Linked DNA regions of Homo sapiens: region 1 is linked to region 2. The links come from fine-mapping of genetic effects on gene expression. Tissue or cell type: pancreas. Region 2 holds a variant in brackets; the other region holds the start of a gene. All regions are shown on one strand. Distances are between the middles of the regions. Region 1 holds the start of SLC36A1 (solute carrier family 36 member 1). Region 2 overlaps FAT2 (FAT atypical cadherin 2).

Evidence for each region.
Region 1: it holds the start of SLC36A1, and the variant in region 2 is fine-mapped to the expression of SLC36A1 in pancreas (GTEx, PIP 0.96).

Annotation. Positions count from the first base shown.
Region 1 is chr5:151,438,488-151,454,275 of GRCh38, reverse strand. SLC36A1 (solute carrier family 36 member 1) reads right to left here and starts at 6,673. Exons shown (of 11, transcript NM_078483.4): 1 at 6,463-6,673. RefSeq lists a cis regulatory region at 2,155 and enhancers at 2,071-2,240, 6,644-6,693.
Region 2 is chr5:151,504,100-151,516,675 of GRCh38, reverse strand. FAT2 (FAT atypical cadherin 2) reads left to right here. Exons shown (of 24, transcript NM_001447.3): 21 at 4,070-4,511; 22 at 6,502-6,655; 23 at 9,065-9,522; 24 at 10,579-12,576. The coding sequence ends at 11,111. It also overlaps a transcript of SLC36A1 not described here. Among named protein-coding and RNA genes, the nearest start is that of MIR6499, 12 kb to the left of the region's middle. The variant C/T (reference allele first, on the strand shown) is at 9,355.

The sequences.
Region 1 (15,788 bases), 64 kb after region 2:
TACCTGTTAACTGTCTAAATGAGGGTTGTACTATGTGAGAGTTGAAGGCAAGCTTGTCCTTCAGATTACTGAGGACAATAAACAGAACACAAAGTCCAAATCTCCATTAGATATTTAGACTCAGAAGAGTGAGCAACTGAGTAAAAAAAGTCTGCAAGTTTGATGGCCAAAAAAAAAAAAAAAAAAAAAAAATTTAAGTGTACAAACCTTAAAACATTCCTTTTTTTTCCTTATGTAACTATTGTTTTAGCTGTATAAATAGACAAGTGTTGCTCTTCAATCTACAAAATATGCCATTTTTAGATGGGCACTAAAAATGAGCAGGTGGAATCACTTTGTGCAACGGATGCAATATGGAAAATGTATGTGCAAACTGAATTTTTATTTTTAAAAATAAAATAAATTTTATTCTATTTTTAAAAATAAAAATTTGTAGGTGTTAAATTTTTCAGAAGTGGGCAATTTTAAGGGGAATTCTACAGTGATTTTTTTTTTTTAAGGCAAGGCCAGAAATTTTTCTAATAAATTCAAATGCTAATGTTCCCATTTTAACAGCATGGGATTCAGGACTCAGGAGAACATAATCTGGCTGTCATTCTAATCCCAAAGTTGTTTTCTTATTTTGATATAGAATTGAGAAAACTGCATTAGATGATTTCTAAGTACACTTTCACTTCTAAAGTTTCAGGATTCCAATTTCAATTTTTTAGTGACTGGGTTTGTTCAAAATAAAGGAGGATTAAGATCAATAGATGGTAACATATTCTGAAGTTGTACCATCCAGTACAGTAACCACTAGCCATAAATAGCTATCTTACACTTGAAATACACTTGGGTAAAATTGAAATGTGCACACTAGATTTCAATGAACTGGTAACAAAAAAATTGTGAAATATCCCATGAATTAATAATCTTTATACTGATTATATATTGCAATGATAATATCTGGGATATATTGGGTTAAATGAAACATACGTCAAGGAAAAAAAAATAGATTTCTGGGCCCAACTTGATTCCACCTTAGCATTTTATTTTATTTTATTTTATTTATTTATTTTAATTTATTTATTGGAGATGGAGTTTCATTCTTGTTGCCCAGGCTGGAGTGCAGTGGTGCGATCTTGGCTCGCTGCAACCTCCGCCTCCCAGGTTCAAGCAATTCTCCTGTCTTAGCCTCCCGAGTAGCTGGGATTACGGACATGCGCCACCACAACTGGCTAATTTTTTTCTATTTTTAGTAGAGACGGGGTTTCATCATGTTGGCCAGGCTGGTGTCAAACTCTTGACCTCAGGTGGTCCACCCACCTTGGCCTCCCAAAGTGCTGGGATTACAGGCATGAGTCACCATGCCCAGCCTATGTTTTTTTGTTGTTGTTTTTGTCTTTTTGTCTTCTTTTTTTTTTTTTGAGATGGTGTCTCCCTCTGTTGCCCAGGCTGGAGTGCAATGGTGTGATCTTGGCTCACTGCAACCTCCGCCTCCTGGGTTCAAGCGATTCTCCTGCCTCAGCCTCCCGAGTGGCTGGGATTACAGGCGTCCATCACCATGCCCAGATAATTTTTTGTGTTTTTAGTAGAGATGGAGTTTCTCCGTGTTGGCCAGGCTGGTCTCAAACTCTTGACCTCAAGGGATCCACCTGTCTCAGCCTCTCAAAGTGATGGGATTACAGGCAAGAGGCGTTTTATTTTTAACTAGCTTCCTAGGTAATCTTGATTATAGGTAGATTTATATAAAGCACTACAAAAAATATATGATCTTATTATGATAGGTACACCCTAGGCCTCACCTCCTACCAGAATTCACGCATTGGCGCCCCTTGTTTGCAAGCTAAAAGTGTCATCCGTTATTCTGAAACAATTACATTGGTTTGGACTTTGGAACTCAGAGCAGCGGCAAATTCCCCAGATGTATTTTCTCCTCTCTGTCGATGGAATTCTAAAAACATGAACAAAGACACAGACTGTGTTGCTATGTGTGGTCTACAGTGAGGGAAGTAAAATGGTTTGGCTTCTACATAATTTGTTTTTAAAACAGCATCAGATAGAATTCCATCCAACTTACCAGAGCAGAACATTCCATAAATTGAGACTTTTTCCTGTAGGAGTCTGATGCTAGAACAGCTACAGGGCAGCTGCTGACCTCAGCAGGTTCTGCACAAAGCAGCTGCTGAACAGGCAAACACGCACACTTTTACTCCCAACCATGAAGATCACTAAATGTTAGGGCCAGGTATAGCTTTAGAGAAGGTCAAGCTCCAGCTTCCTTCTTAGGGGTCAGAAAACCAGGGCCCACACACAAAGGCTGACTCATCCAGGCCCCAGGATGAGTCAAATCAAAGATTTGAGATGACAGTCCAGCAAACCAGCATCCCAGTCCAGTATTCTTTCTACCACACCTTAAATTATATACCCTCCTTAAAATCTCCCTGCGAACAAAGCTGGCCCCAGAGCCTGGGGCAGGATTAGGTCTGCAGCGGGTATTCTGCATAATAAAAAGCACCTGAGTTTGCAGTCTGGTAGTGTGACTCTGAGCAAGTTAATTCATCTCCCTTTGCCACAGTCTCCTCATCTGAAAGATGTCATTAATAACATCTACATCACAATATTGTTATGAAGATAGGAGGAAAAAATAAATAAATGTTAGATATGTTGCCTGGAACATAATAAACCCTCATTAATGATAGCAATTGTGATTATTACTACAGAGAAGTTCAAGGACAGAAAGTGAGAAAGTTCACTAAACAAAGTCTGCAGTATGGGCTCCATTTAAAACTCTGGATTGTGAAGCCAGGTCCCTACCTTGGAGATGGTGATCTAAGTGACATGAACATCTCAGTAACCCACAGACAGATTTCCTAACTTCATGGAAAAGGAAAGCACAGAGTGGCTTTTCCTACTAGAGATGGTCATTAAGGACTAGCCCTGGGGCCAAGCATGGTGGCTCACATCTGTAATCCCGGCACTTTGGGAGGCCAAGGTGGGAGGACTGCTTGAGCTCAGGAGTTCAAGACCAGCGTGGACAAAATAGTGAGACCTCATCTCCAAAAAAATAATAATAATAAAATAAAATAAATAATAAGTAAAAAAAGAACTGGCCCTGGGTGTCAAGGCTTCCAAGAGAAATATTTTGGGGGATAAAAGAAGAGACAACCCCAAATGCAGCACCGTGTGGTTCCTATTTCAGCCTATTTACAATGCCCCATCCATCGGCCCCCATGCCCATTAAGTAGAGGCTACCTTTATGTGCTCATCACAGTAAGGCCTGGCCAAAGGAGAGAGGTACAGGATTCTTCCAAGGCCTGGGTGGAAGTAAACAGACTCAGTGAGAGCTTCTTCTATGGGAAACAAGAGAAGGCCTGGATGGAAATAAACGGATTCCATGTGAGTTCCTCTATGGGAAAAAGAGAAAAGCTGGCCTAGGTGTGAGTAATGCTAATCAGTCATGCACTTTGGAAGCGGTTATCAGCACCAGGCCAGGAAAAGCAGAAACAGAAGACTATTCACTCATCTGACCTTTGAAGCGATATCAAGCATTTAAAGAACTGAGATACTCACTGGAGGGGAGGTGGTGGTGATAAAAAGAAAGAAAAAGCAGGAGTACTTAATATGAGAATAGTTACCTGAGACAAGGTTATAAATAGAAACAAAGTAATCACAAAACTGGACATCAGCTCCATCCACTCTACATGCCAGTAAGTGGACATCTGCTCCATCCATCCCACATGCTAGTAAGTGGACATCGGCTCCATCCATCCCACATGCTAGTTAAGTGGACACCAGTTCCGTCCATCCCACATGCTAGTAAGTGGACATCTGCTCCATCCACTCTACATGCTAGTAAGTGGACATCTGCTCCATCCACTCTACATGCTAGTAAGTGGACACCTGCCCCATCCATCCCACATGCTAGTAAGTGGACACCGGCTCCGTCCATCCCACATGCTAGTAAGTGGACACCGGCTCCGTCCATCCCACATGCTAGTAAGTGGACATCAGCTCCATCCATCCCACATGCTAGTAAGTGGACATCAGCTCCATCCATCCCACATGCTAGTAAGTGGACATCTGCTCCGTCCACTCTACGTGCTAGTAAGCGGACATCTGCTCCATCCACTTTACATGCTAGTAAGTGGACATCGGCTCCATCCATCCCACATGCTAATAAGTGGACATCTGCTCCATCCACTCTACATGCCAGTAAGTGGACATCGGCTCCATTCATCCCACATGCTAGTAAGCAGACATCTGCTCCATCCACTCTACATGCCACTAAGTGGACACCTGCTCCATCCATCCCACATGCTAGTAATAAGTGGACATCTGCTCCATCCATCCCACATGCTAGTAAGTGGACATCTGCTCCATCCACTCTACATGCTAGTAAGTCCAGTCCTAGAATGTCACAGACTCTTGAGTTGAAAGAAAACTTAAAATTTTGTCTAGTCCAACCCTCTACCCAACAATCTAATTTCATCTACAACATCCCCGAAGTAATTGCCCAGAGACGATTACCTCCAGTGACAGGGAGCTCCGTGCTCAGTGTTCTAATACAGGAGACCACTAATTCTTTGAAAGTTTTTAACACTTACCAAACACCCTTCCCTTATGGCACTTTCATCTATTGGTCCCAGTTGTAGTCTCCAGAATATTATAAAATAAATGGAATCCCTTTTTCTTACACCGCCTTTGGAACAGAGAAAACTCTGAGCACTTCGAACTGCCACAAGAGGAGGCTGAATGAACAGCTACATGCCTTAAAGGGAAAACAAGGACTCCAGAGCAGGCGAATATAAACGATACAATCAGAAAACAAAGGGAGAGGCTTAAAGCTGTTATCAGCACAGCCTCTGCTGCACGTAGCCTCCATCCCCAGACAAACACAAAGTTTGTCCCTTTCCACTTGACTTCAAGAACATTTTTAACGAAAACATGTTCTAAATGTACAAGTAAGTTAATTACTGTAAACGAGGCTCTAGACAAGAGTCAGAAGAGGGCCCTGATCATGTTTAAAATAATAACAGACAGTTAAAAATCATTTTCAGCTGTTAGTATTTAGCTTAGACATAATACAGAGATAGGAAGAAAGAGGAGGAGGATTTTATAGCAACAGAGGAATAAGCAGAGGAAACTGCTTCCTACACAATTAGATTAAGTCTTGTTGCAAGGCTGATACTCAGTGTACACAGCGGGTAAAATCTCTCGGAATAAAAAAACAAACAGACCCTGGTCAGGGGCACTGGCTCACACCCCTGTAATCGCAATACTTTGGGAGGCCAAGGTGGGAGGATCACTTGAGCCCAGGAGTTTGAGATCAGCCTGGGCAGCATAGTGAGACCTCATCTCTATTTAAAAACAAACAAACAAAAAAACAAGCCTAGAAAGATGCACAACATCCAGATCACAGCAGAAGGGGCCCTTAAGAATTCAATTCCATCACTGTCTAGACTGAGAAACCCAAACGCGAGTCACTTAAGGTTGCCAGGTAAGCGGCAGAGCTAGGACAAAATATCCTGATTCCCCAATCTCTGTTCTGTCCATTGCACCATGATGCTATCTTCAGCAAAATTCAAATAACTGCAAAACGTCCATCCAAATAAGCAATCCCAAATCTGACAAGTTACAGAAAAAATAAAGCAAAGGTCTTTACATTCTTCAAGTTAACGTCAGGGCTCTCCACAACCTCGGCTCAGCCACCTATCTTCCCAGAAGCACATTCCGATTCATATTTCATATTTTGGTGTGACTTACATAGAATGCAGGAAGGTTAGAAACCAAACCTACAGAAGGATGAGTTTGCAGAAAAATAATGAACAAACAGGGAACCACACCCAGAGCAAATCCAACCCCAGCGGTGGAAAATGCAGACAGCTAAAAAGGGAGAGGACTAAAAGAGAAAGGGACAGAAAGGAGTGCCTTTTCACAGGTGAAGTTTCCCGCAGGAGGCGGTGTGGCGAAAAGCAAACAGCTGCTGAAGCTTAGGAACATTTGCATTCTAGTCGCAGGTCTCCGGGTCTCCGATTAACTCACTGGATGACCTTAGGCAAGCCCTTACCCCTTCCCGGAGTAAGGGCTCAGTTTCTCCAACTGTCCTAGGAGGGAGCTGCACCAGACGACTTCCCAGCGTCCTTGCAGTTCTGACCCAAAGACCCATTATGAGCCTGTCTCAAGCAGCGCTCCCGCAGCGGGCAAGACATTTGCTGGAAACGGGGAGACCTGTGCGAAGCGTGAAAGACGCCCTAGATGGTCCTTTGGGTTATCTTCACCATCTACCCCAGTTTCCCCCACCTGTCAGTCAAACAGGACGGTGAGATCCCAACCCCACGAGGTCAAGGGAGATAGCGCGAGGGACAAGGGATCTCCACGCTTCGCCCAATTCACAGAGGGGTGTCAGCGTCGTACCGCAGCTGCGGCCCGGGGACGCCAAGGAGTCGCGGACCCACAGCCCGGGCGGATCCAGTGCCTGACCTGGAGCATCTGCCACGCCGGGAGGAAGGCGAGGTGGGTCCTGCCCAAGGCGGCGAGCGCCGCCAGCCGGCAGCCAGTGGAGGAACTCACTGCTCGGGTTCTGGCCCCAGCTCCGGCTCCGGCTCTGGCTTCAGCACAGCCCACCCTTCCCGGGTTCAGTATCAGCCCCTCGCCATCCTCCTTTGCTGCCCGGCAGCCGCTTCCGGACCTCATCACGTGATCCCACCGCCCACGCCAGAGGCCGAGGTCACGTGCTCCCTTGAGCGGCCGCGCCTTTTTTCTCACTGAGCTCCGGAGCTCTGCTCCACAGCACCACCTGGCGACCTATTACTGCCACTGCTGGAAGGACTATGTTCCTGGGCGCTGGGGACTGCGAATAGGAACTGAACAGGGCATTGATCTTGGGCATGGGGCAGAGTCCAGTCGAAGAGCACTGTCCCTTGAGTTGTGGGTTTGTGAAATATTGCTAATTTTTACACTGGCTGTATTTTCTTTTACACATCTCGATGAGTTTGTATTGCTTTTATAATAAGAAATATGCATATTTTTAAAACTTCCAATTTTTCAGAAGCATACACAAACTATCATCTGTGGTTGCTACTGGAAATGGAACTGTGGGGTAGGGCAACATTATCTTTTAATACATTCAAATTTTTAAAGTAACATTTTTAAATGGATGGCAACATTTCAGTATTGTATTATCTAGGCTTCTCCTTTTACCTCCTTGTTACAGACTTTTCCTTTAACAATTATGTAACAAATAGGCTTCAAGTCAAAAACTGTCACAAGAGACAGAGAAGATCATTGTTTAATAATAAAGGGGTCAATTCATCAAGAAGACACAACTGTAAATATATATGCATGCAAAATTGGAGCACCTAAATACATACAACTAATATTAATGGCCATGAAGGGAGAAATAGATAGCAACACAATAGTAGGAGGGTCAATATCCCACTTTCAACAATGGATAGAGCAACTAGAGAGAAAATAAGGAAATAATGAACTTGAATTGCACTTTAAACCAAATGAACCTAACAGATATATACAGAACTTTCCATTCAACAGAAACAGAATACACATTTTTTCTCTAACACACTTGAAACATTCTCTAGAATAGACCATATGCTAGTCCAAAAAACAAGCCTTAAATTTAAGAAGATTGAAATCATATTAATATTCTTTCAGACCATAATAATATGAAGCTAGAAATCAATGACAGGAGGAATCTTGGAAAATTCACAAATATGTGGAAATTAAACAACACGCTTTTTTTTTTCTTTGAGACAAAGTTGCGCTCTTATTGCCCCATCTGGAGTGCAGTGGTGCAATCTTGGCTCACTGCAACCTCTGCCTCCTGGATTCAAGCGATTCTCCTGTCTCAGCCTCCCAAGTAGCTGGGATTACAGGCACGTGCCACCACGCGCGACTAATTTTGTATTTTTAGTAGAGACGAGGTTCACCATGTTGGTCAGGCTGGTCTCAAACTCCTGACCTCAGGTGATCTGCCCACCTCGGCCTCCCAAAGTGCTGAGATTATAGGTGTGAGCCACCATACCCAGTCCTATGCTTCGAAACAACCAGTGGGTCAAAGATGAAATCAAACGGGAAATTTAAAAAATATTTTCAGACAATTGACAATGGAAACATAACATACCAAAGCTTATGGAATGCAGCAAAAGTAGTTCTAAGAGAGAAGTTTATAGCAATAAATGCCTACATTAAAAGAGAAGAAAGAGACCAATTAAATAGTTTAACATTATACCTCAGGAAACTGGAAAAAGAAGAGCTCACAAGACCCAAAGTTAAAAGAAGAAAAGAAAGAGCAGAACAGAAATAAATCAAATAGACAACAGAAAAAAAAACAGACAAAATCAATAAAACTAGAGTTGATTTTTTGGAAAAAATTAAATTGACGTACCCTTTGCTAGTCTAAGAAAAAAAAGAAGACTAATAAAATAAAAAATGAAAGTGAAGACACTACAACAGAAGCTTCAGAAATAAAAAGAATCATATGGGGCTATTGTGAACAATTATTTGCCAACATATTGGATAACCCAGATGAAATGGAGAAATCCCTAGAAAAATACAACCTACCAAGATTGAAATCAGGAAGAAATGGAAAGCCTGAACAGACTAATAACAAATAAAGAGATTGAAGATGAGACAGGGACTATCTGACTTTCTGGTTTTCTGTTTAAACTTCCCAACAAGACCAGATGGCTTCACAGCTGACTTCTACCAAACATTCAAAGAAGAAGGTTTGTTACTAAACTCTTCCAAAAAATGGAGCTAGAGGGAATACTTCCAAACACATTTTATGAGGCCAGCATCACCTTGATACCTAAGCCAGAGAAAGACGCCACAAGAAAAGAAAATTACAGGCTGATTTCGCTAATGCACATTGGTACAAAATCCTCAATAAAATATTTGCAAACAGAATTCAACAACAATCAAAAAAATTATGTATCATGACCAAGTGGGATTTATCCCTGGCATGCAAGGCTGGTTTAACATACACTAATCAAGCAATATAATACATCATATTAACAGGATGAAAAATGAAAACCACATGGTTATCTCAATTGGCCTGGCAAAAGCATTTGACAAAGTCCAACATCTTTTCCTTCCCTAACCCCCACCCCAACATACCTTCTTGATAAAAAAAAACTCTCAATAGTTTAGGTATAGAAAGAACATTCCTCAACATAATAAGGTCGTTTATGAAAAACACACAGTTAACATTTTAATTAATAGGGAAAAACTGAAAGCTTTTCCACCAAGATCCAGTAGCAGTCAAGGATACCCACCCTCACCACTTCTATTCAACATAGTACTGGAAGTACTAGCAAGAGCAATCAGCCAAAAAAGCAAAAGAAAGAAAGGCATCCAAATCAGAAAGAAAAAAGTAAAATTATCTTTATCTGCAGGTGACATCATCCTATATGTAGAAAACCCCAAAGATTAAAAAAATACTGTTATAATTCATGAATTTAGTAAATTTTCAGGACATAAAAATCAACATACATGACTGGGCTCAGTGGCTCATGCCTGTAATCCCAGCACTTTGGGAGGCCAGGGCAGTGGGTCACCTGAGGTCAGGAGTTCAAGACTAGCTTGGCCAACATGGTGAAACCCTGTCTCTACTAAAAATACAAAAGTCAGCCCAGCATGGTGGTGCATGCCTGTAGTCCAAGCTACTTGAGAGGCTGAGGCAGGAGAATTGTTTGAACCTGGGAGGCGGAGGTTGCAGTGAGCTGAGATCGCGCCCCTTCAGCCTGGGTGACAGAGTGAGACTCCATCTCAAAAAAAAATTAAAAAATCAATAATATTTTTATACACAAATAATTACCTACCTAAAAAAGAAATAAAGAGAATGATTTTATTTGTGATAGCATTAAAAAATACTCAATAATCAATTTAACCAAGGACATGAATAGGGTGTACACTGAAAACTATAAAACAATGATTAAATAAATTGAAGAAGACACAAATAAATGAAAAGATATCCCATGCACATGGATCAGAAGAATTAACATTGTGGAAATGTCCATACTATCCAAAGCAATATACAGATTCAATGCAATCCCTATCAAAATCCCAACGGCATTCTTTACTGAGATATAAGAAACAATCCTAAAATTTGCATGAGACCACAAAAGACCCTGAATAGTCAAGACAATTCTGAAAAAGAAAAACAAACTGGATGCATCACACTTCCCGATTCAAAATTATATTACAAAGATATAGTAATCCAAACAGTATAGTACTGGCACAAAAACAGATATGATAGACCAATGGAACACAATAGACAGCCCAGAAATAAATTCAAACATATATGGTCAACTAATTTTAAAGAAGGGCATCAAGAGAACACAATAGGGAAAAGACAGTCTCCTCAATAAACGGTGCTGAGAAAACTGGTTTTTATGTGAGAAAGAATGAAATTGGATGTTTATCTTACACCGTACATAAAAATCAACTCAAAGTGGATAAAAGGCCTAAATGTAAGATCTGAAACTACAAAACTCCTAGAAGAGAACATAGGGGAAATGCTCCTGGACACTGGCCTTGGCAATGATTTTTTTGGATATCAGACCAAAAGCTCAGATTACAAAAGCAAAAATAAATAAATAGGACTATATCAAACTAAGAAGCTTCTGCACAGCAAAGGAAGTAATCAACAAAGTGTAACGGCAGCTTATGAATTGGAAAACATATATGCAAACCCTATGTCTAATAAGCGCTTAATATCCAAAATGTATCAAAAACTCATATAACTCAGCAATAGAAAAACAACCCAATTTAAAAATGGGCAAAGGACCTGAATAAACATTTCTCCAAAGAAGAAATAAAAATGCTCAGTGAGCATATGAAAAAGTGTTCAACATCATTAATCATCAGGGAGATGCAAACCAAAATCATTATTAGATATCACCTCATACATGTTAGGTTGGATATTATCAAAAAAGTCAAAAGACAACAAATATTGGTGAGGATGTCGAGAAAAGGGAATTCTAGTACACTGTTGGTGGGACTGTAGACTGGTGCAGCCATTATAGAAAACAGTGTAAAAGTTTCTTTTTTTAAAAAAAACAGTATAAAGGTTTCTAAAGAAATTAAAAATAGAACTACCATATGACCCATCAATCCCCTTTCTGGACATATACTCGAAGGAAATGAAATCACCACCCCATAAAGATATCTGCATGCCCATATTCATTGTAGCTTTATTCACAACAGCCAAGATATAGAAACAATCCAAGTGTCTATTGACAGCAGAATGAATAAAGAAACTGTGGTATATATACAAACATTTTTCTAAAAAAAGAAAGGAGTCCTGCCATTTGCCACAACATGGATGAAACTAGAGGACATCATGCTAAGTGAAATAAGCCAGACACAGAAAGAAAAAATATTGCATGCTCTCATTTATATGTGGAATCTTTTTTTTCAAGTCAAATACACAGAGATAGAGAATCAAACAGTGGTGACCAGGGCCCAGGAGTGCTGGAGGAAGGAAGTGGAGAAATGCAGCTGAGAGGATACAGAGTAGCAGATATGTAGGATCCATAAGTCTAGAGCTCAAAGGGACAACATAAGGACTATAGGTTATACAATTGTACTGTACAAACAGTAGAACAGAGGTTACTAGTAGCTGAGCAGGGTGGAAGGAAAGGATAGGGAGAGATTTGTTAAAGGATACAAAATTACAGCTAGATAGGAATCAGTTCTATAGCTCTGTAGGATGAGCATAGGTAACAATAATATAGGATGTATTTTCACATAGCTAGAAGAGGGGTTTTGAATGTTCTGAACACAAAGAAATAAGCGTTTGAGATGATGGATATGTTAATTACCCTGATGTAATCGCTGTACATTGTATACATCACTGTGTACCTCATAAATATGTATAGTTATGTCAATTAAAAATAACTTTTTAAAAATAAAAAAATCACACTGTATTTAAAATTCCTGTGAAATGAGTAAATTTTAGCTGCTCTTGCCACAAAAAAAGAAACCCCAAATAATGGGTAGCTATGTGAAATGATGGAGATGGCAATTCACTTCACTATAGTTACAATTTTACTATCTATAAGTATCGCATAACATCATGTTGTAAATGCTAAATATACACAAAAACATTTATTTGAAAAATAATTTTAAAACAAAAATTATGTTCTCAACCAAAAAATACTATTAATACAGCTACAAAATGGATGTCAAAATAATTATACATGGATAAATCAAAAAATAATTATGCTAAGCAAAAGACATTAGGAAAATATTTCATTTATATAATATTCTAGAAAATACAAAATAATATAAAGTAATGGAAAACACACATCAGCCATTGCCTGGGAATGCGGAGGAGAGACAGGAGAGAGGGTGATTATAAAGCGGCATGAGGAAATTTTCAAGGGGACAAATTTGTTCACCATCTTGATTGTGATGATTTCACAGGTGAATATATATGTTGAAACTTATCAAGTTACATGCTTTAAATACGTGCAGTTTATTGTATGTCAATTATACTTCAATAAAAGCATTAAGATATTCAGTAAAAAATTATATAATAGGTTAATATATTCTTAAAAGTTAGACAATATAGAAATATATAAATTGAAAATCCCCTTTCCCCAAATTCACTCCCCTCTCCAAAGGTTTACAGGTGCCAGCATGTGTGTATTGTTCTCCAAACCCTATATTATACAATTACAGAAATATATACGTATGTATAGAAATATACAGGTTTATGGTGTTTAAATTTAAAATCATAAATACCAGTACTTATTGTTTTGCTTAAGACTTTTACTCTTCACAATTTTCTCATTTCTCCCCCTTCTACCCACTTGTCTCCTCCACTTTCAATATGTGCAGAACTGTTTTTTCATAGGTCTTCTTAGAAGCTCTGATGTATATTAACATACATTAAATACAACCTCTTGTTTATAGCACATACTATTAAAAACTTTGCCTTAGAGTATGCACTCCATTTCTTTGCCTTTTGTTTCATTTTTTTAGAAATGAGGTCTTGCTATGTTGCCCATATTGGAGTGATCATAGCACACTACAGCCTCAAACTCCTGGGCTCAAGTGATCTCCCATCTCAGCCTCCTGAGTAGTTGGGACTACAGGTGCATGCCACTGCACATCACTAGCATGCATTCTGTTTTAACCATTGTGCCAGTGCTTCTCAAAGTGTGGTCCCTAGACCAGCATCACTTGGGAACTTGCAGAAATGCAAATTCTGGGTCCTACTCTACACCTACTGCATCAGAAACCCTGGGTTGTGGGGGCACAGCAATCTGCATTTTGAAAAGCCCTCTAGGAGAGTCTGATGCTCTCTCGTGCTGTAGAACCACTGCCCTAAAGGACAAGCTTCTGAAGGGACTTGCTTTAGCCATGTGCTAACATGTTGTGTGGCCAGCCCCTGGTAGTGACTTATTTCTGCTGAGTGGTAGAAAGTAATTTGAAGGTTTTTTTCCCCTTATTTCCCAGCTGGGTGACCTGGGCAAGACTTTTGATCTCCATTTGGTTTCATCATCAGGAAAGTGAGATTGAAAACCCTCCTTGGTTCTGCCTCCCTCCCTGGATTGCTGGAAAAGCAGATGAGATCAGGCGCTTAAAGGTTCTATATATAACATGAGGGGTTATGCTGCTGAGAGATATTAGGGAAATTAATCCTTTTGCATTCCATAGTCTTGAGGAATGTAACTTCCTTTTTTTTTTTTTAACCACTCTACCCATCCCAAGCCCTCAAGAGTACCAGCCCCTGAGATGTCATAGCAACCCTACCCAGTGTCCCCTTTCCCTCTCCTTCTCTCTTTTTGAGACCCCTTGGGTCCCTGATCCATCCTCCTGAACATTCTGTGACTGATGGCCCTACTGTCAAGCCTCTCTCTGTTAAGACCACTGCCCCCTACAGTGGCTTCTAACTCTAAAATTCTCAGGTTTTGTATCTTAAAAAATAAAAAATAAAGAAAATATGCTTACAATGTGCCAGGAACTAGTTTCTTGTTGATTGAGTCAATCCTCGTGGCAGCCCTATGAGGCATTTAGGAGATGCTGTAGGTGCCCTTCCTGTATCTCCTTTACCAGAGCTGCAGCCCCATCCCTAGCTGCGGTGAGTGTTGCCTGCTACACTGTAAAGCATGCTACACTGTTACGTAGGGATACAAAAGGCCTACCTACTTTTGTCACTATACAGAGAGCAATGCCGTTATTCACACTCATGAAACTCCTGTGGGTGGTCTGGGTAATTCTTCGCTGTAGTATAAGCATTCATCAGCATTATGATTTCAATATTTGGCAACCCAATCACAACAAAATTCAAGAATTTATTAAGTGGCACAAGTGCTGAAAAATGAATTTGAAAATTCCTTAACTTTGGAGTGGAAATTAGAAAAAATAAAATTCCTATAAAGAAGACCAAACACCATCAGATATGACATGCTGGTGCCTTAGGAGGGTGTCTCCTATAAAGTAAATTAGCACTGGAGTGGAACAGATGAAAAACAGCCACTGAAGCAAGAAATCATCAGCTCAAGTACATAGGAAAAGTGCTGGGGCCAGATCAATACAACTGGAATGTGCCTCAGGCCATGCTATTGTTTTAAACATTTCTTTTTCTTTTTTTTTTTTCTTTTCTTTTTTTTTTGAGATGGAGTCTCACTCTGTTGCCCTGGCTGGAGTGCAGTGGCATGATCTCAGCTCACTGCCACCTCCACCTTCCGAGTTCAAGCAATTCTCCTGCTTCAGCCTCCCAAGTAGCTGGACCTACAGGCACACACCACCACGCCTGGCAAATTTTTGTATTTTTAGTAGAGATGGGATTTGACCATGTTGGCCAGGATGGTCTTGATCTCCTGACATCATGATCTGCCCACCTTGGCTTCCCAAAGTGCTGGGATTACGGGAGTGAGCCACCATGTCCAGCCTGTTTTACACATTTCTTATTGTGATTTTTTGATGATTTGAAAGGAGGTAATTATGATATAATATGGTTTGGCTTTGTGTCCCCACCCAAATCTCATCTCGAACTGTAATCCCCATGTGTCAAGGGAGGGGCCTGGGTGGCAAGTGATTGGATCATTAGTGGTTTCCCCCATGCTGTTCTAGTGATACTGAGGGAGTTCTCAGATCTGATGGTTTAAAAGTGGCAGTTTCCCCTGCACTCTCTCTCTCTCTCTCTCCTGCTGCCATGTAAGACGTGCCTGCTTCCCCTTCACCTTCTGCCATGACTGTAAGTTTCCTGAGGCCTCCCAGCCATGTAGAACTGTGAATCAATTCAACCTCCTTTCTTCATAAATGATCCAGCCTCGGGTAGTATAGCAGTGTAAGAACAAACTAATACAGTGTTAGAACGAACTAATACCCAATAAAACATTATATCAATAGTATTTTTGTGGTAAATGAAATATGTTTAAAGAAAAAAAATGTGGCAAAGGTAATAGATGCATGCACTCTGAGGACTCAGAAAAAAATGTTGCAAGTAATTCAAAATTCTGTCCTGTGATTAAACAAGACTGCTCTGCCACCAATGCCAGGTCTCTGGTGCCTGGGAGAGTGCATGAGAGATGGTGAATTTTGCAGTGACAGAGACCTGCAGAGCATATGTCAAAGGATGCCAGAGAACACCTCTGCCTGACAACCTGCAGGCAGGATCACAATGACAGGAGTGTCAGAGCACATGTATGAGACCCAAGTACACTCCTCTTCTTGGAACAAAATGCTGCTCACACAGGAGCTCAACAAAAGAACAAGCTTTAAACACATTATATTGCTTTAACATAAGGAAGACTTTCCCAATCATGTGCAGTGGC
Region 2 (12,576 bases):
AGCTTTTGTTCTATGGGGGAGAGACTGACAATAAACATAAACATAATAGCTCAGAAAATTATAGAATTTGTTCAAATGTGATAAGTATTATGAGCAAAAAGGAAAAAATGGAGGGGCATCAGGGGTGAGGAGAGTTGCAATTTTTATTTATTTATTTATTGAGACAGAGTCTCACTCTGTCGCCCAGGCTGGAGGGCAGTGGCATGATCTCAGCTCACTGCAACCTCTGCCTCCTGGGTTCAGGTGATTCTTGTGTCTCAGTCTCTGGAGTAGCTGGAATTACAGGTGTGTGCAACCACGCTCACTAATTTTTTTCTTTTGCGTCTTTAGCAGAGACGAGGTTTCACCATGTTGGCCAGGCTGGTCTTGAACTCCTGGCCTCAAGCGATCCACCCACCTTGGCCTCCCAAAGTGCTGGGATTATAGGCATGAAACACATGCCCAGCCGGAGTTACAATTTTACAATTTTAAATAAGGTGGCCAGGGAAGCTTTCATTGAGATAATAATTGAGCAATAATTTGGAGAGGGTGAGAAAGTTAGCTCTATGGACATCTGGAAGGAACAACATTCTAGATAGAGGGAATAGCAATGTGAAAGCCTTTTGGCAGGAGAATGCTTAGCATGTTTAAGCAATGGGTTGGAGTTCTACCTGGCTCCAGTGAAGTGGGTAAAGGGAACAGTAGGAGGAGGAGTTGGTCAGAGACGTAATGGGATGGGGCATATCTATGAAGGTCTTGTAGGACATTGTAAGGACTTTGGCTTTTATTCTGAGCAAAATGGAGGCATTAGAAGGTTTTGAGCAGATAATTGCAATGATCTATTTTAAAAGGGTCATCATGGCTTCTTTGTTGAGAATCGACTTTAGAGAAACAAAGATAGGAGCAGAGAGACCCAGTCAGGAGGCCACTGCAATAATTTGGATAAGAGAGGATGGTGGTTTAGACCAGGGTGATGACAGAGGAATTGGAAAGAAGATAGATTCTACAAAGATTTTGAAGGCAAAGCCAACAGGATTTCCCAGTGAATTGAATGAAGGGTGGGAGAGAAGGCAAGTAGTGAGATTTTGGCCTGGGCAACTGGAAGAATGGAGTTTGTGCCAGCAGGCCTGGGGAAGGGTATGGGTGGATACAAGGTTTGGGGAGGGGAGATCAGAGTGCAGTTTCGGATGTGTAAGTTTCAGATGCCCATTAGACCTCCAAGTGGATCTGGTAAGACAAGCCTAATGTTGTGAGGGGTCTATGCTGGAGATGGAGATCTGGGAGTCTTCAGCGCATACGTGGTACTGAAAGCCATGAGATGGGAGATCACCAAGCAATGTAGATTGAAGAGAGAGTAGGCCAAGGATTACTCCTTGAGACCCTCCAACATTAGCAGGTCTGGGGGAAGAGGGGATTCAACAAAGGAGACTGAACATGAGTAACCGGTGATGCTGGAGGAAAACCCAGGGAGTATTGTATGCAGGAAGCCAAGTGAAGAACACGTATCAAGAAGGAAGGAGTGATCTGTTGGGTGATCTGCTGCTGAGAGGCCAGTAAGATGGGAAGTGATTTGGCAACACAGAGATCATTGAATCCCCTGACACCAATGGTTTCCGTGTATGGTGGGTTGGGGTGAAATTTTGCGGAAAAGGGACAGGAAAGAAGGAAAATATCTGGCTGGAAAACTGAGGTGAAGACAACCTTTTTTAAAAAAATAAAGATTATCATCTGTAAAGAAGGTATATTTTTGAAAATAAAGATTAGAGCAATAACACCATGTGTGTATGCTGTGGAATGATATAGTGGTGAACGAACAAAGATGTAAGAAAGAGGAAGGAGAATCAGTAGACCCTTGAGGAGGTGAGGAGGTAGAATCTAGTGCATAAATGGAGAGATTGGCTTTAGCTAAGGTGGATAGATGTGATGGTGAAAGTGCCTGCAGGTTCCCCCATCTGATGATTTCAGTAGGATGTGAGATGATCAGCTGAGAGTGGGAATGAGGAGGGAGGCATTAGGGATCTCAGGAGAGAGACGTAGTGAAAACAGTCATCTGGAAGAACGGATGGACTCAGGAAGGGAGTGTGATTGCTGGGCAGCATTAAAGGCTCATTTGAGAGCCATGGTCATGAAATTAAAGAGAGGCTCGTGAGCAAAGCTGCACGTTTTTCTCCAGCCATGTTCTGCTCCATGTCTGTATAGAGCAGGTGGAGAGTTAGCTTTTTCCATAGTTGTGGGTTTACCAAGAGAGTTCTACGAAGTAAGAAAGAGATAGGTCAAGAGTATGTGAAGGGAGTAGTTAGGATGATTGACTATGGAACTTAAACTGGATAAGGAGAGGAACGAGGACATTACAGAGGTGGGAGACAATGAAAAGACGGTGGGATCAACAGATTTGTGGTCCCAGACAGATAAAAAGAAATGATTTCATTGCAATGTTTTACTTGAGTTGCATTCATTTTTGTTATCCCCCTTTCTTAAAGGCAAGTGTGTTGGTTTTCTATTTACCCTAATAATAGTGTCTCCTTTTTAAGTAAATAAAGGTATAGGTAGTATTCAACTGGGGCAAAAATCTGAGAGGTGGTCTACAGATAGCCAATGTATAAGAAACACTGGGTTAGATCTTCAAATTTCAACAGAGAAAACTCTACCTAGCCCAAAGTGACCAGAAAAGTATTTGGTCACAGGCAGTCCTACCTCTTGGGAATGAAGTGAATTAAAATGTTTTAACCCAGTGGTTCTCAGACTTTTTGACTTCAGGACTTTTTACACTCTTGAAAATTATTGAGGATTCCAGGGAAGTTTTGGTTATGTGGGTTATAACTATCAACATATTCAGTATTAGACATTAAAACTGAGATATTTAAAAATGTATTAATTTATTTAGAAATAATAAACTCACATGTCAACATAAATACCTTAATTAATTAAATAATTTTTTTCTTCCAATTTTTAGTTTAGTTTCGGGGGTACATATGCAGGTTTGTTATACGGGTAACCGATGTATCATAGGGGATTGGTGTACATATTACTTCATCACCCAAGGAATAAGCATAGTTCCTGATAGGTAGTTTTTTGTCCTTAACCTTCTCCCACCCTCTGCCCTCAAGTAGGCCCTGATGTCTATTGTTCCCTTCTTTGCGTCCCTGTGTACTCAGCATTTAGTTCCCACTTGTAAGTGAGAACATGTGGTATTTGATTTCCTGTTCCTGTGTTAGTTTGCTTAGGATAATGGCCGCCAACTCCATCCATGTTGCTGCAAAGGACATAATCTCATTCTTTTTTATGGCTGAATGGTTGTCCATGGTGTATCTGTACCATATTTTCTTTATCCAGCCCACTGTTGTTGAGCATCTAGGTTGATTCCATGTCTTTGCTATTGTGAAAAGTGCTGCAATCAACATATGAGTGTATGTCTTTATATATTTTTATGAAAAATAATTACTTTCCGAAAGAAAAAGGAAGAGTGGCATTGTTTTACATTTTTGCAAGCCTCTCTTTTGCCTGGCTTAATAGAAGATAGCTGGCTTCTCATATTTACTTCTGCATTCATCAGTTGTGACAACATGTGTCTCCAAAACTCTGTTGTATACTTGTGAGAAAACAAAGGCAAATCAACTCTTAGGATTACTATAAAAATACTTTGCCCTTGTGGCTTCCCTGAAAAGGTCTTGGGGACCTACTTTGAGAACTGCTAAGCTGTTGAATAAGGAAGTGGGAGTGGGAGACAGGTTTTTCAAATCGCTGAAGGCCAATATTCACAAGTGTGGAACTCTGGACAGGCCTGTGAAGAAGCATCCAAAATACAGGGTCTTGATCAGCAAAGCATCTCTCGGCCTCAGTTTCCTCATCTGTGAATGGAGATGTCACCCCCTACCCAGACCATCCCATGGGGTGTGGTGAGAACAAAGGAGACCATCAACACAAAAGCACTTTGAGGGTTTTTATGCTCTGCAAATGCCATGTCTAAAACAGCCAAACACCCCCCTCCTACCCATAAAAATACAAACAACATTCTTTGAACTGGCAGCCTCTTAGCAGGTTTACAAGGACTCCTTGGCTTTGCTGATGGCTGTTTGGATTTCCTTTGCAGCTGGCCAGTGGAGTGCCCCAGCTGGAATACCACTGTCTGGGTGGTTTCTATGGAAACCTTTCCTCCCAGCGCCATGTGAATGACCACGAGTGGCACTCCATCCTGGTGGAGGAGATGGACGCTTCCATTCGCCTGATGGTTGACAGCATGGGCAACACCTCCCTTGTGGTCCCAGAGAACTGCCGTGGTCTGAGGCCCGAAAGGCACCTCTTGCTGGGCGGCCTCATTCTGTTGCATTCTTCCTCGAATGTCTCCCAGGGCTTTGAAGGCTGCCTGGATGCTGTCGTGGTCAACGAAGAGGCTCTAGATCTGCTGGCCCCTGGCAAGACGGTGGCAGGCTTGCTGGAGACACAAGCCCTCACCCAGTGCTGCCTCCACAGTGACTACTGCAGCCAGAACACATGCCTCAATGGTGGGAAGTGCTCATGGACCCATGGGGCAGGTGAGGGCTGGGGTGCCAGGCTGAACCCAGGGTTTATCCCAGAAGGCTCTTCAGGTGGGAAAAGCATGTCAGGGTGGAGATCTCAGAGCCTCCTGGTTCCAAATTTCTCTCTCTTCCCCTAACTTGTGAGTAACAGGTTGGAATCTGCAATATCTAGACTAGGGGAAGCCAGGAGTCTTCCTTCCCTCTCAACAAAAACTATCTTTCTACTTCTGGGGGGATGAGGGAGGATATGAATGGGGACCTCAGGGGCAGAGGGTTGAATTAATCACATACCTTAGTGTCATCACTGGTCTATGCACAGTCTCCTTCTCATTCCCCTTTAACTTATATTCCACTCCCTTCCCCTTCCCTAACACTAGAGGCAAACATTTACAGTTTTTGAATGAGTTCTTGCAAAATACATGTTGTTTTTCATATGCTTGAATTTCCAATTTATATAAGTGGTATATGTTGTTTACGCTTTCGCTCAGCACCATATTTTTAAGATCTGTCAATGCTGCCATGAGCAATTCTCATTAATTGCTTCTAACTGTGGCTCAGTACTCCATGATGTACACGCACTCACATTTTCCCTCTCCACCCTCGCACTCCAAACACCCATCTCCATCATCAATGCTGCAGGGAGCATTCTCCTATATGTCTCCTTGTGAAGCTGTGTGAGAGTTTCCTTCACACACACACACCCGACACCCAGGGGTGGAAGTCACAGGCTCACAGTATGCAAATAATTATTTTGACTAAATAGGGATACATTGCTCTCAGCATGGCTATTCTATACATCACATGCAACATGAGCGGTTCCTGTGTACCCACATGCCTCTCAGCCATCTATTCTATACATCACACACAACATGAGAGGTTCCTATGTACCCACATGCCTGTCAACATGTGACATGCCTGTCAACACTTCGCATTACCCCTTTTTCTGATTTTTGTCTGGCTAATCATGTCATTTCTACCTGCAAAATATCCAAGGAATCCATCACTTCTCTCTTTCCCCATTGCTGTCCCTCTGTCCCAAGCCCCCATCACCTCTCACCCTGGCACCAGCCTCCTCCCTGTTCTCCAGCTTCTATCCCGGCCTTCCACCTTCCAGCAGGAGCCGGGGTGATCTTTATCCAGCACAGACCTGTGCATGGCACTCTTCTGCTGAGAACTGCTCAGTGGCCGCCATGCTGCTAGGATAGAGTCCCAATCCCTGCATGTGGCTCCTGCACCTCCCAGGCCATAGTTCAAACTCTCCCTGTCCCTCACCAGGCTGGCCCACCCTGGTGTGGTTTGAGTTCCTTGACCATGCCACACCCTTCCCTAGCCTTTGCACGCACTCTTCTCTTCCGCCTGAAACACCTTTCTCTTTGCCCTCTAGCTTCTTGCCTAGCTAATTTCTACTCATCCTTCAGATCTCAAATGAAATAGCTCCCAGATCCCTAGAGTAAGCTAGCCTCATCCCCCACCCCTCCCAGCATTTCCCTTCAATAAAATTAATTTTATTATAATTACTGAGATACTGATATTATAGCTAGCTGTCTAGGTTTGAACCCCAGCTTTGCCATTTACTGGCTTGAGCAAATTCTGTCCATTCTCTGTGCCTCCTTTCCTCATCTGCCATCCCTTTGTACCTGTCCCCTGATGAGGATGATGACAGTCACCAACCTCAGGGTCATCGTGAGGATCAAATGAGCCAACACAGGAAGATCCTTGGAACAGTGACTAGCACTAAGTTAGTGTCTATGGTTGTTATCCTGTTTATTACTGTTCTTTAGGTGACTGTTGTCTCTGGTGGGCTGTAAGCTGTTTGAGGGCAGGGACCAAAGTGCTCTTGGTTCAGCAGGGCACCAATGCCCAGCACGGTATTGGGCACAGAGGGGAGCAACCAAATAAATAAATGGTAACTGAACGGCTGCACAAACACACCAGTCTGCCAATGCCAGGTCTCCTTTAACTGCTAGGCCAGTGCGGTCTCTCACCTCCCTTCTTTTTCTCCTAGGCTATGTCTGCAAATGTCCCCCACAGTTCTCTGGGAAGCACTGTGAACAAGGAAGGGAGAACTGTACTTTTGCACCCTGCCTGGAAGGTGGAACTTGCATCCTCTCCCCCAAAGGAGCTTCCTGTAACTGCCCTCATCCTTACACAGGAGACAGGTAATCCCAGGAGAGGCCACCTGCCATGGGCTCCTTGTTAGGGAATGCGCTCTGTACTCTGACCTCTAGAAAGTCCAATGGGAGGCCAGGGGAGAGTGCTGCAGGGACCTGGCTTCTAGGCCTTTTCCATCTGTTAGGGCAGTGGTCCCCAACCTTTTTGGCACCAGGGACCGGTTTCATGGAAGACACTTTTTCCACGGACCAGGCAGGAGAAACGGGAGATGGTTTCAGGATGATTCAAGCACATGACATTTATTGCACACTTTATTTCTATTATTATTACATTGTAATATATAATGAAGTAATTATACAACTCACCATAACGTAGAATCAGTTGGGAGCCCTGAGCTTGTTTTCCTGCAACTAGACAGTCCCATCTGGAGGTGATGGGAGACAGTGACAGATCGGGCATTAGATATATGCTCCTTATAAGGAGCATGCAAACTAGATCCCTTACATGCACAGTTCACAACAGGGTTTGTGCTCCAGTGAGAATCTAATGCCCCCAGTGATCTGACAGAAGGCGGAGCTCAGGTGGTAATGCTTGCTCACCCATGGCTCATTTCCTGCTGTGCAGCTCGGCTCCTAACAGGCCACCGACCAGTATGGGTCCGTGACCCAGGGGTTGTGGACCATTGTGTTAGGGTGTCTCTCTCTAACCACCTGCATTACAACACTTCTGGAGGAGGAAGCTGCTTATTAGAGATTTCCCCAGCCCTATTCTGAACATACTGTCTCAGAATCACAAGCTGGGGCTTAGCAATCTGTACATTTAACCAGCTCCTCAGGTAGTTCTGGTCCTTGCTGCAGTCTGAAAATGGCTGAAGTGCTTATTCTCTCACTCTGGACCTGAACTTCCCAGTGACCTGGGGAAAATGGTTCCACTTGGGCAGGTGCTGCTGTGCCTGGAACCCCACTGCCAGCTGTCTGTGCCTCATACTGTGTGGGGCTGTGGCAGTTGCAAGGGAAACTGTCATTCCTAGAATCCTAGAGAGAAAGAGACTTTGACAATTATCTGGTTTTAGGGCTCCCAAACTTGGGAGCCTTTAAAGAATCATGAAAGAGACATGAAAAATATAGATTCCAAGATCCAGCCTAGACCAACTGAATCAGAATCTCCAAGAATGGGCCTAGCTTCTATTTTTAACAAGCTCTCAGTGGATCCCTTTGCTATTAGCCTGTGTATAAGAGCCAGTGATGTAGTTCACCCACTCATTTTACAGCTGCAGTAACTGAGGCCCAGGCAGGGAAAGGGCTTTCCCATGATTACTCTGGGTATGCTGATGACCCCAGTCCTTTTTTTTTTTTTTTGAGAAGGAGTTTCACTCTGTCGCCCAGGCTGCAGTGCAATGGCACAATCTCGGCTCACTGCAACCTCTGACTCCTAGGTTCAAGCCATTCCCCTGCCTCAGCCTGCCAAGTAGCTGGGATTACAGGCATGTGCCATAACACCTGGCTAATTTTTGTATTTTTAGTAGATACGGGGTTTCACCATACTGGCCAGTCTGGTCTTGAATTCCTGACCTCAAGTGATCCCGCTGACTCGGCTGCCCAAAGTGCTGGGATTACAGGCATGAGCCACTGCGCCCAGTCGACTTCAGTCCTTTTTCTCAGCAACTGGTGTGTCCTGCCCTGCTTTGCAGTCGGGAATGCTATTCGTTCACGAGATGTGTTGGGAGGACATTTCACAGCTGAAAGTGGTGTCTGCATTTTAAAAGAGGACCTTGGGGAAAACAACATTTAACCCAAAATAACAAACAACTGGTAGTGACATTTCGGGCACTGAGAAATGTTTTGGACTCAAATGGGATGGGGCAAACTTTCCCAATAGCCCTCAAAAGTGGATAAAGCTGGCCACAGAAGTTTCCCTGGAGCTTCACACCATGGAATGCCAAGCTAGAGGTACCCTGAGAGTTCGCATGCTTTCTCTGAGCAAGTTGCCCATTGTAAGGTGGCTGATCTGTGCAGGACCACGTTGGCTCCTGTGACCTCCTGGTGAAGCACAGCAGGGAACATTGGTGCCTGGCTGCTATAACTGGGCAATGCTGACTTGTATCTGGAACCCTGACATCATTGCTAGAGAGTCGATGTCTCTACTGCAGTGATATGGGAGGAAATCCGACCTCATGATAGAGAGTGTATACAGTGCCTAGATCTCATTGCTGGAAAAATAATAGACATTCCCAGATCCTAATGGTCACAAATGAGGATGTAGCTGAGACCCATACTTTACTGGTGGAAGGTGGAAAGTTCTGATGTTGATATGCTTGATAGTTACTTTTTTGGGGGGTGAAAAACGGGAGATGGTAGGTTTTGGGGGGAGCAGTCTCTATCCCATAGATCTCTGTAAGAGGGGACATGGAAAGGGCAATTTCATGACTTGGCCCCCTGACTACTCTGTCTCCGCAGGTGTGAAATGGAGGCGAGGGGTTGTTCAGAAGGACACTGCCTAGTCACTCCCGAGATCCAAAGGGGGGACTGGGGGCAGCAGGAGTTACTGATCATCACAGTGGCCGTGGCGTTCATTATCATAAGCACTGTCGGGCTTCTCTTCTACTGCCGCCGTTGCAAGTCTCACAAGCCTGTGGCCATGGAGGACCCAGACCTCCTGGCCAGGAGTGTTGGTGTTGACACCCAAGCCATGCCTGCCATCGAGCTCAACCCATTGAGTGCCAGCTCCTGCAACAACCTCAACCAAC[C/T]GGAACCCAGCAAGGCCTCTGTTCCAAATGAACTCGTCACATTTGGACCCAATTCTAAGCAACGGCCAGTGGTCTGCAGTGTGCCCCCCAGACTCCCGCCAGCTGCGGTCCCTTCCCACTCTGACAATGAGCCTGTCATTAAGAGAACCTGGTCCAGCGAGGAGATGGGTCAGTATAGCCAGAGACGCTTAGCCTCTGGGATTGATGGAAGTGGGTGGTGGTTCTAAACACTCCGTTATCTGAGGCACAGGCATTTTTAGCTACCACGCATCCAACCCTTTGGGATGGGACATGATGAGATGTGTTCAAGATTACAGGGCACGGATGCTGGAGCAGATACCAGGTTTCTGAGGCTCATTCTATTGCACTCCTTTAAATTCCAAGTCACTCCATGGGATTGAGGTTCATGACAGAAATGTGTAGACCCTGGATAGGGTTGGGTAGAACCCTTGGAGTGAGAAGGGGGCTTCTGCACATTTGTGCTTTTCTGGGAAGGGAAAGGAGAAGTGGTCTAAGCTTCTGGTTGCCCAGTGTGGAAGTGCAGCAGCCTTGGGCCAGACCTGGCTGACCTAGAGGGGGAATATCACCTTCTTCTCATCTTTGGCTCAAAAGGGGGTGCATTAGTAAAGCACTTCATGTTTTGGCATAATCATTAGCAGTTATGATAGGTATTTTCACTATGTGTCAAATACGGAAACCGAGGCCCATCAAGATGCAGTGACTTGTTCTAACTAACCCAACTATTCAGTAGCAGAGGCAGGGCTAGGACCAAGGGCTCCTGGTCTCCTGATTTCCGAGCCACATCTCATTTCATCACTCTCCATGATAGACTCCATCACACCTGTGAGTGAGTCCAAACTGTGTGTGTGTTTCCTTCAGTTAAGGGGATGAAACTCACCAGTAGGACTTGGGATGGAGTTACTGTATCCAGCTGTGGGGGTGGGTTGCATGGAGACATCCAAATCCTTCCCTTGTTCACTGACCCTCAGATTAGTGGCAGGGATTTGCAAGATGGGCTGGCCTTAGGTCAAACCTCTAGCCTTGAGCTTGTCCCATTGGATTCTATGTTATCAACGTAAGCCAACAGAGACAACCTGCACAGATGGGCCTATGCCCACCCACTCCCATCTCCACCACTCGCTAGGTTATATATAGTTGCTATAGAGCCAGCTGAAACCTTCCGGGGAGAAAATGAGCTCACCCTATCTTGCTGTTCCCTTTCAGTGTACCCTGGCGGAGCCATGGTCTGGCCCCCTACTTACTCCAGGAACGAACGCTGGGAATACCCCCACTCCGAAGTGACTCAGGGCCCTCTGCCGCCCTCGGCTCACCGCCACTCAACCCCAGTCGTGATGCCAGAGCCTAATGGCCTCTATGGGGGCTTCCCCTTCCCCCTGGAGATGGAAAACAAGCGGGCACCTCTCCCACCCCGTTACAGCAACCAGAACCTGGAAGATCTGATGCCCTCTCGGCCCCCTAGTCCCCGGGAGCGCCTGGTTGCCCCCTGTCTCAATGAGTACACGGCCATCAGCTACTACCACTCGCAGTTCCGGCAGGGAGGGGGAGGGCCCTGCCTGGCAGACGGGGGCTACAAGGGGGTGGGTATGCGCCTCAGCCGAGCTGGGCCCTCTTATGCTGTCTGTGAGGTGGAGGGGGCACCTCTTGCAGGCCAGGGCCAGCCCCGGGTGCCCCCCAACTATGAGGGCTCTGACATGGTGGAGAGTGATTATGGCAGCTGTGAGGAGGTCATGTTCTAGCTTCCCATTCCCAGAGCAAGGCAGGCGGGAGGCCAAGGACTGGACTTGGCTTATTTCTTCCTGTCTCGTAGGGGGTGAGTTGAGTGTGGCTGGGAGAGTGGGAGGGAAGCCCTCAGCCCAGGCTGTTGTCCCTTGAAATGTGCTCTTCCAATCCCCCACCTAGTCCCTGAGGGTGGAGGGAAGCTGAGGATAGAGCTCCAGAAACAGCACTAGGGTCCCAGGAGAGGGGCATTTCTAGAGCAGTGACCCTGGAAAACCAGGAACAATTGACTCCCGGGGTGGGCGAGAGACAGGAGGGCTCCCTGATCTGCCGGCTCTCAGTCCCCGGGGCAGAGCCTGATTGACTGTGCTGGCTCAACTTCACCAAGATGCATTCTCATACCTGCCCACAGCTCCATTTTGGAGGCAGGCAGGTTGGTGCCTGACAGACAACCACTACGCGGGCCGTACAGAGGAGCTCTAGAGGGCTGCGTGGCATCCTCCTAGGGGCTGAGAGGTGAGCAGCAGGGGAGCGGGCACAGTCCCCTCTGCCCCTGCCTCAGTCGAGCACTCACTGTGTCTTTGTCAAGTGTCTGCTCCACGTCAGGCACTGTGCTTTGCACCGGGGAGAAAATGGTGATGGAGGGCAACAAGGACTCCGAGGAGCACCACCAGGCCTCGGGCCCCAGAGGTCCCACTCCTCAGCCTACACGCAGAGGAACGGGCCCACCTCAGAGTCACACCACTGGCTGCCAGTCAGGGCCTGCCAGGAGTCTACACAGCTCTGAACCTTCTTTGTTAAAGAATTCAGACCTCATGGAACTCTGGGTTCTTCATCCCAAGTTTCCCAGGCACTTTTGGCCAAAGGAAGGAAGGAACTAATTCTTCATTTTAAAAATTCTTAGGCACTTTTTGACCTTGCTGTCTGGATGAGTTTCCTCAATGGGATTTTTCTTCCCTAGACACAAGGAAGTCTGAACTCCTATTTAGGGCCGGTTGGAAGCAGGGAGCTGGACCGCAGTGTCCAGGCTGGACACCTGCCATTGCCTCCTCTCCATTGCAGACGCCTGCCCATCAAGTATTACCTGCGGCGACTCAACCCTATGCATGGAGGGTCAATGTGGGCACATGTCTACACATGTGGGTGCCCATGGATAGTACGTGTGTACACATGTGTAGAGTGTATGTAGCCAGGAGTGGTGGGGACCAGAAGCCTCTGTGGCCTTTGGTGACCTCACCACTCCCTCCCACCCAGTCCCTCCCTCTGGTCCACTGCCTTTTCATATGTGTTGTTTCTGGAGACAGAAGTCAAAAGGAAGAGCAGTGGAGCCTTGCCCACAGGGCTGCTGCTTCATGCGAGAGGGAGATGTGTGGGCGAGAGCCAATTTGTGTGAGTGGTTTGTGGCTGTGTGTGTGACTGTGAGTGTGAGTGACAGATACATAGTTTCATTGGTCATTTTTTTTTTAACAATAAAGTATCTTTTTT